4 linked regions of the Homo sapiens genome follow. The protein of the gene in region 2 purifies or fractionates together with the protein of the main gene of each other region. This does not show direct contact. Each region holds a gene or a part of one and is shown on either strand. Other genes may lie near its edges.

What was found. The genes of interacting proteins can lie anywhere in the genome.
Region 1: the proteins of RUNX3 (region 2) and TCF7 purify together in Homo sapiens (co-immunoprecipitation; one study listed by IntAct). This does not show direct contact.
Region 3: the proteins of RUNX3 (region 2) and DZIP3 purify together in Homo sapiens (affinity purification with western blotting, with the first as the bait; one study listed by BioGRID). This does not show direct contact.
Region 4: the proteins of RUNX3 (region 2) and MEX3B purify together in Homo sapiens (affinity purification with western blotting, with the first as the bait; one study listed by BioGRID). This does not show direct contact.

What each region holds. Positions count from the first base shown.
Region 1 is NC_000005.10:134,113,231-134,117,480, forward strand, and holds the start of TCF7 (transcription factor 7), read left to right. Parts: upstream 1-1,450; 5' UTR 1,451-1,676; coding exon 1,677-1,925; intron 1,926-2,090; coding exon 2,091-2,157; intron 2,158-2,382; exon of another isoform or gene 2,383-2,678; coding exon 2,679-2,803; coding exon of another isoform or gene 2,804-2,856; intron 2,857-4,250. UniProt on the Homo sapiens protein: Transcriptional activator involved in T-cell lymphocyte differentiation. Necessary for the survival of CD4(+) CD8(+) immature thymocytes. Isoforms lacking the N-terminal CTNNB1 binding domain cannot fulfill this role.
Region 2 is NC_000001.11:24,899,277-24,902,776, reverse strand, and holds the end of RUNX3 (runt-related transcription factor 3), read left to right. Parts: intron 1-110; coding exon 111-655; 3' UTR 656-3,266; downstream 3,267-3,500. UniProt on the Homo sapiens protein: Forms the heterodimeric complex core-binding factor (CBF) with CBFB.
Region 3 is NC_000003.12:108,645,222-108,648,721, reverse strand, and holds part of DZIP3 (E3 ubiquitin-protein ligase DZIP3), read right to left. Parts: intron 2,106-3,500; coding exon 2,073-2,105; intron 780-2,072; coding exon 610-779; coding exon of another isoform or gene 604-609; exon of another isoform or gene 1-603. UniProt on the Homo sapiens protein: E3 Ubiquitin ligase proteins mediate ubiquitination and subsequent proteasomal degradation of target proteins.
Region 4 is NC_000015.10:82,043,219-82,047,394, forward strand, and holds the start of MEX3B (RNA-binding protein MEX3B), read right to left. Parts: upstream 2,801-4,176; 5' UTR 2,488-2,800; coding exon 2,232-2,487; intron 1,396-2,231; coding exon 1-1,395.

The sequences.
Region 1 (4,250 bases), on a different chromosome or scaffold from region 2:
GCTGAGCACTCGTGCCCATGCCACCCCCCAGCCCCAGCCTGGGGAAAGGAGGAAAAGTGGGCACCCTAGCCCGGAGGTGGCGGGGGAGGGGGGTGTGGGGGCTGGTGTCCGAGACACCCGGCTGGGCGGGCACAGATAGGATCTGAACACAGGGAAGCATGGCCTAGCTCTTTGATCCACAGCCAGCCACGCTGGGCCTGGACCCGGAGGGAGGCACGGCTGTCTTCCGGCCCGGCTTTGCACCGCTGCCAGGGGTCCTGTGGGGCCCTCAGAGGGAGAGGCGTCCAATACCCGGCCCTCCCCCAAATACCCTCTATCCCAACTGCTCTCAGAAGAGGCGTGAGCGTCTACAGTGAACCCAGCACAGAAACCTGCTAGGGGAGCTGCTGTTGACTGCATCGCGATCCAAAGGACCGGCGTCTTTTGTAGATGCAGGGGCTGAGCCAGGCCAAGCGCGCCGTGGAGGCCCGCGTGGACGCAGACCCGGGTGCCATACAGATGCGCTGGAATCCAGGCACTTTCCCGCGCTCCGCAAATCTAGATGTTTCAGCCTGGATCGAGCGAGGGTTAGAGGGTTAGTCAGGCCAGGGTCAACTTCAGAGTCATGGGCTCCCTAAATGCGACTTCTAGGGTTGAGTTGCTGTGGACGAGCGACCCATGTCGGAATCCCGCGCCCACGTGGCTGCCCAAAGTTCCGAGTCTCCGGGCTGCAGGTTCTAGTCACGGAACCGAGTTGGGAGAGTCATAGGGGCTGGGACTTGGAGGATCGGCTGAGGTCCGGTGCTCTTGGCTGTGTTCGCGGCTCGGAGCCGTCGCCTGACTGAGGGGCCCGTCACAGATGTGTGATGTATAAGCTCTGCACGCAACAGGAGCTCAATAAATGTGCGAAGGGGGGTATACTTATGTTCGCACTGTATGCAGGCGGCCTAGAAGGAAGTCCCTGATTGGCACAGGGATGGAGGATGGGGCAAGAGCCGCAACAGCGCCGCGGAGTTCCAACGCTGCCGGTTCCCTGGGGTACGAGCACAGCCTCAAGCAGCCTCAAGCCCTAGGAAGCCCCCAGTTCAAAGCACAGGGCGCATTGGAGCCTGGGCACGATACAGTTCACACCACGGCTGCGATGGTAAGCCACGCCCAAGTCCCAAGGGCCTAGGGGACCCCCGCCCTCCACAGCCGGAGGAGAAACCTGGGCGCAGAAAGCAGGGGGAATATCTGGTTGTAGGTGAGTAAGCGGGGTCAGGAGTTCCCGTTAGAGTCTCTGCGTTTCGGGAGAAGGGTGATCATTCCCAGGCTTGTCCGACGTCTCTCTCAGGGTGCGCTCCGGAAGAGCGAGCCCTTTAAGGCTATGCCGAGTGGGCGCGTCCCGGCCTCTCCCGGGAGAGGAGAGGCGGGGCGGACCTGTGTCCCGCCCCCGGCCCGGCCCGCCCCCAGTGCCCGCCCCGCCCCCGGCACTCGGCCGGCGGCGCCTTTGATGTTCCGACCCGCCAGCTCGCGGAGCCGCTCTGCCCCGCGCCCTAGCCCGCGCCTGCAGCCCGCCCAGGCGGAGTCAGCCCGCGCTCCGCCCGCCGCGATCCGAGCTCGGAGGTTCGGACTCCGGGCTCGCCGCCCCCCGGGCCGGCTCCGCGCCCCGCACTCCCGGCGCCCAGCGCCCCGCGCCCCGGCGGGCGGAGCGCACCATGCCGCAGCTGGACTCCGGCGGGGGCGGCGCGGGCGGCGGCGACGACCTCGGCGCGCCGGACGAGCTGCTGGCCTTCCAGGATGAAGGCGAGGAGCAGGACGACAAGAGCCGCGACAGCGCCGCCGGTCCCGAGCGCGACCTGGCCGAGCTCAAGTCGTCGCTCGTGAACGAGTCCGAGGGCGCGGCCGGCGGCGCAGGGATCCCGGGGGTCCCGGGGGCCGGCGCCGGGGCCCGCGGCGAGGCCGAGGTGAGCCCCCGCCGGCGCCGGCTCCTCCCCCGCGGTCGCCGCGCCGCGCCGCCCCAGTTGCGCGCGGCCCTCGGGGTCTCCAGCGCGCAGAGCGTCCCTGCCCCGGCGTCGGCCCCGACCCCCGCGGTCCCACCGCCCCTCACTCCCCTCCGGTTCTCCCTCCAGGCTCTCGGGCGGGAACACGCTGCGCAGAGACTCTTCCCGGACAAACTTCCAGAGCCCCTGGAGGACGGTGAGTTTCTGCCCGGCCCGGCTTCCCTTCGTCGCGCTCAGGCCCTGGCCTCGGTGGGACGGGGACGCCAAGGACCGCGGGGAGCCGGGTGCCTCCCCCACCGCAGCTCAGGAGGCGGCAGAACCCAGGGGTGGAGAGTGGGGGGCGGGCTTCCCGGGCGCCGCCGGGTCGAGTCACTTCCGGTGCCCTGACCTTTATAGGAGTAAACAGACCCCCGCCATCCCCGCCTCCCCTCCTGCCCAGGTGACTGACTAATCCGCCGCCTTCAGGAGACAGAATTGGCCAAGGTTTCTTGGTTGGAGGGCGGGGGGTGGGAGGTCAAGTAGGGGCCACCTCGGGGAGGCCTGCCCTCCAGGTCCTTCCCCTAAAACTTGGCACTGCCGATACTCCCAGCCCGTTCCTTCCCAAGTCAGGAACTTGCAGGGGACCCCTTGGCAATTCTTTTTCTCTCAAGAGCAGACAGCCTTCAGTCCCAGCCGCTGCCAGGGCTGGTGTGTCTGACCCAGCTGTGGTTTTTCCAGGCCTGAAGGCCCCGGAGTGCACCAGCGGCATGTACAAAGAGACCGTCTACTCCGCCTTCAATCTGCTCATGCATTACCCACCCCCCTCGGGAGCAGGGCAGCACCCCCAGCCGCAGCCCCCGCTGGTAAGTGGACCCCGCAGCCAGTGCCGCCCTGTGCTTGCAGCCTCCTTGACCAGGTAGGTGAGGCACCGGCAAGAGACTTCTGCCTGGAACAAAATAGACGAGACTCCTGTGCTGGTCTTTTCTCCCATACACACCCGGTGGGATCTGAACCAAAAGGAGAACTTTGCTGAAGGAAGGAGGGGCCGCCCTGGGGCACCCCCCTGCCCTCTGCCTCTTGGCTTTTGTCTTCCCAGCTTGCTCATAAGCAGGTGCAGGCTCTGTCCTGGTGCTGGGTGATGCCAGGGTGGGGTCTTCTTAGAGAACTTTTGAGCCGAGACCACCCTTGCTCCTCGCTGCTCTGATCTGAGCTCAGAGCTTTGCAATTAACTTTCTAACTAGCCCAGGAAACCCTGAGCCTCCTTGGCGCTTGGAGGAATGGGCAGGAAAGCTGATCTGTTCAGGTCCCCTGGTTGTGCAGGAGAAACGTGCTGTGTTCGGTCGGCTGTGTCCTGACGGGCGTGAGTGTACCGTTGCCAAAGAAGGACCCTGAACACCATGTGTGGAAAGTGGGTTCTTAGGAAACTGGCTTGGTCTCAGACATACCAGGAAGGGTTGGCAAAGGTGCTACAAATCAGTGATGTTGAGAAGGGACCAGTTTAATTAATTCGTGAATTAAATATTTTTAAGTCCCAGTGCTTTGAAAAGATTTCATGATCTTTACAAACCATGCCCATTGGTACAGATGACCTAAAGTGTGAAGAGCCTATTCTGAGTGTTTTGGAGCAGTACAGCTGCGCTTTTAAAGAAATTCCTATTCGTGTTTCACACTCTCCTCAGTTGGTCCAAGTTGGGGTGAAGGTACGTGGAAGGTTTGGAGGACTGTGGTAAGTGAGTGTTGGGTGTGAATGTAAGCCCAGTGCAGGTGGGGCTGGCAGGCTGGAGGCTCGCATGGCTACAGTGGGGTCACCAGAGGGAGGAGAGTTAAGTGCTAGGCTATTTCAGACCAGGAGTGAAGAGGGTGGTTCTGAGAGCTGCTGCATGCCAAGCCAGTGGGAATGAGAAGACATATAGGCTTCTTTCCAGAAGCCTAGGCTGGAAAGCCTATTCTATGGCTAGCTCTAGAAATGAGCTCCTTGCCCTTTGGGCCCTTATCTGTAAAATGAGTATGTTTTTCGAGTAGTCTCTGTATCCGACTTTCTGCTCTGGGGTGGCTTGGTATATGAGGTGGTTCACTTCCTTCCAAGTCTGTGAGATGGGGGGTGTGCCCCCCAGCATTCCCCCGCTGATGTAGTGACTACATCCAGAGAACTCACCCTGTGTGAGCCCATGCTTAACAAAGATGCGTTTTGGATCCCTACAAGATGTAAATAAACCCTTAGATTTGGGACTAGGTTGACATAACCCACCAGTGCCAAACTTCCAACAGGTGTGCCACTTGCATAGGGGCTGGGGTCACCGTGGAACCATG
Region 2 (3,500 bases):
CTAGGGGTCCCCCAGATGGGCCTTGGGAACCAGAGCCCAAGGTCATTCTTCAGGAAGCCCTCCTGGGGTTGTCTCGAGCTGGAACTGACCTCTTCCCTGCTGTCCTCCAGGCACCTCGGAACTGAACCCATTCTCCGACCCCCGCCAGTTTGACCGCTCCTTCCCCACGCTGCCAACCCTCACGGAGAGCCGCTTCCCAGACCCCAGGATGCATTATCCCGGGGCCATGTCAGCTGCCTTCCCCTACAGCGCCACGCCCTCGGGCACGAGCATCAGCAGCCTCAGCGTGGCGGGCATGCCGGCCACCAGCCGCTTCCACCATACCTACCTCCCGCCACCCTACCCGGGGGCCCCGCAGAACCAGAGCGGGCCCTTCCAGGCCAACCCGTCCCCCTACCACCTCTACTACGGGACATCCTCTGGCTCCTACCAGTTCTCCATGGTGGCCGGCAGCAGCAGTGGGGGCGACCGCTCACCTACCCGCATGCTGGCCTCTTGCACCAGCAGCGCTGCCTCTGTCGCCGCCGGCAACCTCATGAACCCCAGCCTGGGCGGCCAGAGTGATGGCGTGGAGGCCGACGGCAGCCACAGCAACTCACCCACGGCCCTGAGCACGCCAGGCCGCATGGATGAGGCCGTGTGGCGGCCCTACTGACCGCCCTGGTGGACTCCTCCCGCTGGAGGCGGGGACCCTAACAACCTTCAAGACCAGTGATGGGCCGGCTCCGAGGCTCCGGGCGGGAATGGGACCTGCGCTCCAGGGTGGTCTCGGTCCCAGGGTGGTCCCAGCTGGTGGGAGCCTCTGGCTGCATCTGTGCAGCCACATCCTTGTACAGAGGCATAGGTTACCACCCCCACCCCGGCCCGGGATACTGCCCCCGGCCCAGATCCTGGCCGTCTCATCCCATACTTCTGTGGGGAATCAGCCTCCTGCCACCCCCCCGGAAGGACCTCACTGTCTCCAGCTATGCCCAGTGCTGCATGGGACCCATGTCTCCTGGGACAGAGGCCATCTCTCTTCCAGAGAGAGGCAGCATTGGCCCACAGGATAAGCCTCAGGCCCTGGGAAACCTCCCGACCCCTGCACCTTCGTTGGAGCCCCTGCATCCCCTGGGTCCAGCCCCCTCTGCATTTACACAGATTTGAGTCAGAACTGGAAAGTGTCCCCCACCCCCACCACCCTCGAGCGGGGTTCCCCTCATTGTACAGATGGGGCAGGACCCAGCACGCTGCTGGCAGAGATGGTTTGAGAACACATCCAAGCCAGTCCCCCCAGCCCAGCTTCCCCTCCGTTCCTAACTGTTGGCTTTCCCCCAGCCGCACGGGTCCCAGGCCCCAGAGAAGATGAGTCTATGGCATCAGGTTCTTAAACCCAGGAAAGCACCTACAGACCGGCTCCTCCATGCACTTTACCAGCTCAACGCATCCACTCTCTGTTCTCTTGGCAGGGCGGGGGAGGGGGGATAGGAGGTCCCCTTTCCCCTAGGTGGTCTCATAATTCCATTTGTGGAGAGAACAGGAGGGCCAGATAGATAGGTCCTAGCAGAAGGCATTGAGGTGAGGGATCATTTTGGGTCAGACATCAATGTCCCTGTCCCCCCTGGGTCCAGCCAAGCTGTGCCCCATCCCCCAAGCCTCCTGGGAGGATCCAGCCAAATCTTGCGACTCCTGGCACACACCTGTCTGTAACCTGTTTTGTGCTCTGAAAGCAAATAGTCCTGAGCAAAAAAAAAAAAAAAACAAAAAAACAAAAAAAAAACAAAACAGTTTTTAAAACTGATTTTAGAAAAAGAAGCTTAATCTAACGTTTTCAAACACAAGGTCTCTTACAGGTATAGTTCCGTGATTATGATAGCTCTGTGATTATAAGCAACATCCCCGCCCCCTCTCCCCCCCGCGGACCCCCAGCTGCCTCCTGAGGGTGTGGGGTTATTAGGGTCTCAATACTTTCTCAAGGGGCTACACTCCCCATCAGGCAGCATCCCACCAGCCTGCACCACAGGCTCCCCTGGGAGGACGAGGGAAACGCTGATGAGACGCTGGGCATCTCTCCTCTGTGGCTCTAGGACATCTGTCCAGGAGGCTGGGCGGAGGTGGGCAGGATGTGAGAGGTGGGGAGTACTGGCTGTGCGTGGCAGGACAGAAGCACTGTAAAGGGCTCTCCAGCCGCAGCTCAGCTGCACTGCGTTCCGAGGTGAAGTCTTGCCCCTGAATTTTGCAAAATGGGAAAGTGGGCGCTTGCCCAAGGGCCAGGCTGCATGGATTCTCACATCAGAGTTCTCTGGCCCTAGAAAGGCTTAGAAAAGGCGTAAGGGAACTCATAAAGGCTAGCAGCATGCGGTATTTTAACTTTCTGCCTCGGCCTCTGTGGATGCAGAAATCTGCCCTACAAAATGCTCTTCATTGGTTGTCTCTGTGAGAGCACTGTCCCCACCCAACCTGTCACAACGGCCAGAACCATACACCAGAGACACACTGGCAGGTTAGGCAGTCCTTCTGGTGATCCTATTCCATTCCCTCCTGCTGCGGTTTCTCTTGGCCTGTCCTCACTGGAAAAACAGTCTCCATCTCCTCAAAATAGTTGCTGACTCCCTGCACCCAAGGGGCCTCTCCATGCCTTCTTAGGAAGCAGCTATGAATCCATTGTCCTTGTAGTTTCTTCCCTCCTGTTCTCTGGTTATAGCTGGTCCCAGGTCAGCGTGGGAGGCACCTTTGGGTTCCCAGTGCCCAGCACTTTGTAGTCTCATCCCAGATTACTAACCCTTCCTGATCCTGGAGAGGCAGGGATAGTAAATAAATTGCTCTTCCTACCCCATCCCCCATCCCCTGACAAAAAGTGACGGCAGCCGTACTGAGTCTGTAAGGCCCAAAGTGGGTACAGACAGCCTGGGCTGGTAAAAGTAGGTCCTTATTTACAAGGCTGCGTTAAAGTTGTACTAGGCAAACACACTGATGTAGGAAGCACGAGGAAAGGAAGACGTTTTGATATAGTGTTACTGTGAGCCTGTCAGTAGTGGGTACCAATCTTTTGTGACATATTGTCATGCTGAGGTGTGACACCTGCTGCACTCATCTGATGTAAAACCATCCCAGAGCTGGCGAGAGGATGGAGCTGGGTGGAAACTGCTTTGCACTATCGTTTGCTTGGTGTTTGTTTTTAACGCACAACTTGCTTGTACAGTAAACTGTCTTCTGTACTATTTAACTGTAAAATGGAATTTTGACTGATTTGTTACAATAATATAACTCTGAGATGTGTGGAAGGAGTCCAGTGCCCGGTTTCTAGGGCTATGCATGGAGGTGGGGTGGGGTGGGGGAGAGGATGGAGACCTCCTGCTGTTGCCCAGGAGGAACAGGAACAGAGACACCCAGCACCTTCATCTCCTTGCTTCCAACTTCTTCAGGAATGGCCGCAGAGACCACCCTGGCCACAGGACAGCCGGTGAGGCCTGCTCCTGTATGGCTGGGACCCCAGGAGAGCATCAAATAGGTCTTCAAAG
Region 3 (3,500 bases), on a different chromosome or scaffold from region 2:
ACTGATGAATAAAGGAACAACACATAATGTCAATAAGTAGGTTACTGATAAAAGTTCACAGATGCTCACTTACACACATGGATGTAACAAAGGAGGAAGACACTTTTTAAAAAGCAACATATTCATGCCTATAAGATGAAAGATCTAAGGATAATTTAGTGACTATATAATAACTGTTACCACTTATTTGTAAAGAAATACGGAGATTCCATTCTGGACGAATTTCATTCTACCTCTGCGCAAATGGTTTTGAAATATCCCACTTTTCTCTTCCTTTCTTTCCTCTCTATTTTAGACTATACTTTCTTCTACTTTCTAATACCTTCCCACATCCACTTCAACTGGGATTAAAAAAACATATTACAGTCTAGCATAATGCCTGCCACATAAGTGTTTAAGAAATGGTGGCAAAATAAATGGTTATGGCAGGAAAGATTATGGAAGGAAGTACTGAGGCAAGGAAGGAAAGGACCATTCCAATTCAAGCTCTGTATAAACACTATGAAAATATAAGCTAAAATTATCTGGGATGCTTTAAGTACAGCACATGCAACAAATTAAAGGCCCAGAATAAGTTCTTCTAACTCAAATATTAATGAGAGCTTATACTTCCTGGAGATCTTTAAGAGATTCTGTTGAAGATTCACTGGGTATTGAGGTCCCATCTTTATTAATTTCTGCAAACTGTATCTCAGGGTGTGATTTCACATTTATATTGTACTCCATGAGAGGTGGACTTAGTTCTTCTTCCTCATTCTGTAACTCTTCTATTTCAATACCTAAACATAAAAGACAAAATTCTCAAAATCTAGATGAAAGCAATTTCAGCTTCTTATCAATGTTATAATGTTTGCCCAAAAAAGCAACATTCACAAAACAGAAATAAAATATATCTTACTCTTTTCAATTACTCGATGAAAATGTGATGTTCATTTATCAGTTACCAAATAATATGTACAAACACCAGCCTGGAACTAATCAGTGTGAACCTGAGTGCTATGTTACCTACTGGAATCTTAGGTAGACTCTAGATATTAGATACTCTAGAACATAAGTAGACTCTAAATACTAACTTTTTGCATGTCCTGACCTTGATCCTATTAATAATGCAACTAGTATTATTTTAGCACATATATCTGAAATATAAAGAAAAAGAAGACAAAAGATCTATTTTTTCTGTTTTCTTTTTCATAAGAGGGGTGTGAGCCCCCTATTATGTGACCTTTTCTTTGAGACTTTGCTCCTTGATATTGCCCCAGAGACTCAGTCTCAAAACTTGTGGACTTTGTCTGACTGGTCTCCAGAGAGTCCAGCATTTTATCCCAAACAAATCTGTGGTGGTGTTTTTTTTAAGTATAATTTTAATTGAATAATATTAATTACACTTAAAAAAAATAGCACAAAAATGGAAATTAAACAATTACAACTTATCACCTGGCAAAAAAAGTATATAGCTATAAACAATAGACAGACTAAATAAAGTTATACACGCTAAACACCAAACAGAGAAAGCAGGAAGGTATTTTTGCCTGCTGAAGTTTTTGTGAGTAAAACGTTAGAACATCATCCTTGGGAAAACCCTGAAGCACATGCACTAAGCCAAAGGCAGAATAAAGCTCATTCTCGATTCAGCCAGACCAGTGGTGATTTGATCACATCATTTTCCAAGTTCTTTTTTTTTGAGACTGAATCTCGCTCTGTCGCCCAGGCTGGAATGCAGTGGCGTGATCTTGGCTCACTGCAACCTCTGCCTTCCATGTTCAAGCAATTTTCCTGCCTCAGCCTCTTGAGTAGCTGGGACTACAGGCACCCGCCACCACACCTGGCTAATTTTTGTATTTTTAGTAGAGACGGGGTTTCACCATGTTGGCCAAGATGGTCTCGATCTCCTGACCTTGTGATCCACCTGCCTCAGCCTCCCAAAGTACAGGGATTATAGGCGTGAGCCACTGCGCCTGGCCCAAGTTCTTCACAATTATAGTTTATCATTTAGTTTATCTGAACAAATAAAAATTTCATAGGTATCCCTTGTTAAAAAGTCATTTACACATTTTATTTCTAAATATACTTACGCTGACTGCCTGTTATTGACTGTAGAGCAATTCCTATAATACATAAAGAAAAATTTTAGATGTACAATTGCAAACGCAACAAATGAATGTCTGGCTAGGATTAAGGCAGAATATTTTTATATTGCACCAATTTATTCTGTAAGTAACTGGAAAAATAACCAGCTTTGCTCATCAATCCAGTTTAGACAAGGCACAATCTTTAGATTATCACATAAAGGTTATAAACCCATGATTAGAGAAAAAAAAGTAAACAAAAATGTGGTATCACAGATAAAGCCTAGAACACAAGCACTTTAAACCAAGCAACGAATATTTATGTTTACCATCTAAGGCCATGAAATAATAGTTAATTACACAGCAAACCTCCACTGAAAGTTGGGACCTATTTTTAGCAATCTGATTTATCTGATCATCACTTGCTCTCCTTGCCCATTAATATTTATTGAGCACCTACAATGTACATCAGGCTGTGTTAAGCTCTAGAGATTGAATGGTGAAGAAAAAAAAAGACAATCTTCATGGAGATTTAGTGGGATGATGGATGTTAATCAAATTATCAGATATCCAAATAAAAAGCAACTAGAATAGCTGAGGAAAGAAATATAAGATGGTAAGAAAGCCTCTAGTAAAGGGACTTGACCAATAAGCTCTTCAGTGTACTTGAGTAAGAACTGCTTAAAATGCTTTGAATTGAATGGGTGCTCAAAACTCTTTCTCAAATACTCTATTCTCATGAATTATTTAAAATCCTAATAGAGTAAATGTATTTTTTAAAACCCTAATTTATAAGTCAAAAATTCTTGCCTGACTTTCTTATATATCAAACTCAGTGTCCTCCTCTTTCATTCTTAGATTATGCAAGAAAACAAAGGTATTCCAGAGCCTTAGTAAATACCAGGACTGAAATTGGGCACATCAATTATCTCTGAAGAAAATCTGGACCAGTTCACTAGAAACTTTTACAGTTGTATGTTTATATAGCATCAGTGTGGTTATCAGTTGTTCATTAGGCTGTAAATAACTTGAGACCAGGAAGTCATCCTGAATAGCACAGCAGGGTTTCAGAGATGTTGTCATGCCTTGAACTCTGCTTTCCAAAAGAATAGCTGAGAAGGTATCCTGAGATGTGGGAAAGGAGGTCTGAAGTCTTTTCCGTATCAATAGACAAGTTTGGGAGTGGCCAATACAAACACTTGCATGAATGTTACCTGATTTTTAAAATTATCTACAGCCAATGAATAGCTGCTAAAATTGTAAACTAAACAAGATTCTGCTAGAAAGTAGAAGAAACATACATCCACACTGTGTCTAAACGAACATCTTTGAAACCACACAGTACTTACATGTCATGGTTTTAAACTTTATTAATTTTGGAGAATAAAACTCCACTTAAAGTGATAAAACTGTACTCAAAAGTCTTCAACAATT
Region 4 (4,176 bases), on a different chromosome or scaffold from region 2:
CGCTCTTCTCACAGATGCGATTGGCGCACTCCATGCAGAAGAGGTTGTGGCCACAGGGCACCAGCGCGGCAATCACTTCGCTCTCGAAGCACACGGAGCAGTCGCGGCTGCCTTTACGCCGAAGCCCGGAGGAAGAGGATGAAGAGCTGGAGGAGGAGCTGGACGAAGAGGAGGAGCCCGACGTGTCCGACGGCTGCAAGCCAGGCAGCTGTGCCCCCAGCCCGTTGGCATAAGCGGCGTAGGCCAGGCCTCCTCCACCCGGGTCGCTGCGCACCCGGCGAGCCAGGTGGTGCTCTCCCGCCCCCGGGGCCATGTGCAAGGGTGGAGACAGGCGCGGGCAGCTGGTGCCAGGGTGCAGCCGGCGGTGCACCAATAGCCCCAGGTTGGCGTTGGAGGGCGCACTGGCGCCACCCCCGGGGAAGACCACGGAGGAGGAAGAAGCAGACGAAGATGCAGAAGAAGAGCAGGAAGAAGATACCGGAGCTGCAGGTCCGCCTCCCGGGGACCGCTCGAACTGGGCCCAGATAAGTGGTGCCCCAGGTGGGGGAGCGGGAGCCGGGTCAAAAGTGGGCTGCAGCTCGGGGCAGCCGTCGGGGGATGGCACTGAGGCTTCTCCCCCCGCTGTGTAGGTGTACCCATTGCCGTTATTGTTATTGTTTCCGTTGTGCGCAAAGCTCAGGGCGGGGCTAGGGGGGCTGTAGTCCGCCAGGCGCTGGGTAGCCGCTGCGCTGCTGCTGGTCCCGCCGCCGAAATAAGAGTCTGTGGAAGCACTGCCAAGCGAGCTGGAGCTGTCGTTGCGGTAGCTAGAGAAAGGCTTGCGGCCGGGGGTGGGCGTGATGCTGGGGGTGGGCTTGCTCCAGAGGCTGCCTGGGCCGGACCCGCCGGACCCATGATGCAGATCGAAGCCCACATCGGTGCCGTTGGCGTGGAAGTCGTTCTCGTCTGTGAGCTCAATGATGCCGCCGGTACGCAGAGCAATGTGCGCCTCAATCTCCTCTCGAGCGCGATCCACGTTCTCTGGCATGCCGGTCACCTCGAACACCGGCTCCTTATCCCGGCTGGGCGTCACGATGTACGTGTGCGTCTGCTGCTGGATGCGCTTGATTGTGGCGCCTTTGGGCCCCACCACGAGCCCCACCACGCGGTAGGGTACCCGCACTTGGATGGTGGTCTGCCCGGGCAGGTTGGGCGGCCCAGGCACCGCGCCGTTGAGTGCCGTGTTCTTATTCCGGGAGGCGCGGATCATGGAGAAGTGCTCGGCAGCAGAGATGATCTCCCTCCGAGCCATGGCCACATCCTCCTTCCTGCCCGTCACAACAAAGACAGGCTCCTCCCCGCGAACTGGGGTCTTGATGTAAGTATTGGTCTTCGCCCGCAGCGCTTTGATTTTACAACCTACGAACCAGGGTGCGGAGGAGGGAGTGGGAGAGAGAGACAGACACGCCCATTATCCTGGGGTAACCGCGGGGACCGGGGACAGCCCGCGTCCAGGACAGCGAGACGGCAGGACAAGAGATGGGCGGAAAGGGGGCGTCTCCCTCACTGACCTCGGGCCGCGCCACGGGCTGGGCAGCGGATCCCACCCGCGAGGCGCTCGAGGAACAGCCCATTGGCTGCCTGGCCCTCCCCCAGTGACTGCAGTCGTCCCGAACCAAACCCGAGAATCCCAGAAAAGTCATCTGGGGAGATGCCGCTGGGATCCAGCTGGGCGCGCCGTCAGCTCTGAAGACACGGGGAAGGGGCTCGGGGAAGGCAGCTGAAGTCGCGATGCCTCAGCGCTGGTCGACTGGGGGTAGGGGGTGGGGTGTGAGTCCCGGGACCCATTGTTCCTCCTCTGGGCTCCATTCCGCTTTGCAGAAATCCAGAATCCTCCTCCCATCCTATGCTCACTCCTCCTCCTTCCTCCTCCCAAAGGACTGATCAAAGGCCCCCTCCCCCAAGCATCTTACATTTAAATTGTCTTTCTGGAGGTGGGCTGGTTGGGGGGCGTTAGGGGAGAAGGCAGTGATTTTAGCAGAAGAAAGTGCATCCCGCCAGGGCAGCGGCGCGGCTCCGGGAGACAGCCTGCCTGCACTTTCTTTGTCTGGGGCGCCGGCCCATCGCGCGGCTCTTCCTCTCTCCCCAAGGCACCCCACGCCGCGGATCCCGATACTGAACACGCCTTCCCCTCGAGGCAGTGGCCTGAGACCCTACACCACCCCCACCCACCTCCCCATCCCTCCTCGACCTACCTTGCCGCCCCACGATCTCGGCGACATGCTCAGAACTGGGTACTGGCACGCACTCGGTCATGTTCACGCTCTTCTTGCGCGGCTCGCTGTCGTACAGAGAGGCGCCCTCGTCACTGTCCAGCCCCAGCAGGGAGAGCTGGTCGAGCGCGAGCTGCAGGGCTCTTTGGTCATCCAGGGTCTCTCCCCCTCCGCTGCTGCCGCCGCCGCCGCCGCCGCTGCCGTTGCGCTCCAGGTCTGCGAACAGCGAGCTGGGCATCGCTCGGCCGTGCGCGCCGCGCCCCCGCCGGCCCTCGGCTCGGCGGCGAGAAGCTGCGGCCACAAAGGCAGCCGGGAAGCGGGTGGTCAGGGGCGGGGAGGCCGGTCGCCTGCTGAGGGCTCCGTTGCTTCTTCCTCGGTGCTGGGAGGAGTGGGTCGCTCCGTGCGGTCCGCACCGGGCAGTGGCTGCAGGAGCCCCCACCTGGGTCCCCACCCCAGACCTGCTGGCGGGTGGGGTGGGGGCAGAGCTCTAGCGGTGGCCGCGCGTGCCCCCCGAGTGCCCGGCTGGCTGGCCGCAATGCCGAGCGAAAAGCGAGCAGGCGAGCGACAGAAGCGTTTCTTTAAGGAGCCCCTCCCCGGCTCCTCCACTCCCTCCCTCCCGCCCGCCCGCCCGCCCTCACTCAGCGCTTTTTCCTCCTCTCCTCCCCGCCTCTTGACTGAGCCTCTGCAGCCAGACGACTCCGGAGGGGGACGAGGGAGGCGCAACGTCACAGGCGGGAGCTGACACCACAATGCTACTGACACTATCGCTGGGGGAGGCGATTGGCGCGCGCCAGGCCGGGGGCGGGAGGAGGCCGCGGGTTGAGCGAGCGGAGAGAGAGCGCCACCCCCCACCCCCGCGCTCGCCGCAGCCCGCCCCGTCCTCCTCCCGGCCGCGCCCCTCCCCCGCCGCCGCTAACGCCTCTCTTTGTTGTCTAATGCGGGACTGGCAGGCTCGGGACACTTGGATGTACCTATCAGCCGAGGACAATCATTGTCCCTAAGTCTCCTCCCTCGCCTGACTGAGAAAAGAAAACGCGCCCAACTCTGATGCCTGGAGCCGGGCTCTAAAAGAGCGGTCCTCAGGAAGTCCCGTTAGTGGCTCCAAATAAACCATCCGTGGAGCCAAAGCTTCCTCTGTGAGAAGAGTCTGTAGTCCGCCCAAAAGGGCGACCCGAGCCCTCCGACACGGAAAACGGGACTCCAGGTCTTGGGGCGCACGGGCAGAGTGACTCCCGGCGCGGGTTGTCCACCTGCGCGGGAGCGCACGAGACACAAAAGCACACGCCCGCCCACACTGGCAACCGCGCGCGCGCGCGCCCGCGCCTGCATTTCTGTCTCCTTGGGCAGCACTTCGCCCAACTGGCCCTGAAACTGAGGATGGGAAAGCTAAAAGCTGGCTGCCGCGCGAGCTCGGCCCGCCCGGCCGCTGGCGACCTCTGGAATGCATGGCACCAGTGTCCAGCACACGCCCGGCGCCCGGGCCGAGACCCTGCGGGTTCTGACACGCGCACGAGCGCCGCGCCGCCACCGCGGGGACGCAGGCCACAGCGCCAGCGGGCGGCGCGGGCGTGCGCGCCCGCTGTTCCCATCCCTCCCCTCCGTGCCCCGCGGCCGAGCATGCGCAGTGCGCGCGAGGAGCGGGCGGGCCCTTTAAGGCGGGCGCTGCGGAGCGCGCGCCGGCCCCGCCCGCGGCCCCGCCCCGACGGGAGGTGAGCGCTCCCTGCCCGGCCGCTCTTTGTGCGCTTCTCGGGGTGGGGGTGGCGGCAGAGGGAGGTTGCGACGGCACTTGCCGGCGAGGACGGCGAGCTGCGCCCCCTCCCGGATCTCCCAGGGACCGTCTCCGAGTGCGAGAGAGAAGGAAGGAGGATTTGAGGGGCGGGCCGGGGCGGTGCGCGCTGGTCCTCTCCGCGCGCATCCCCCTCCGCCG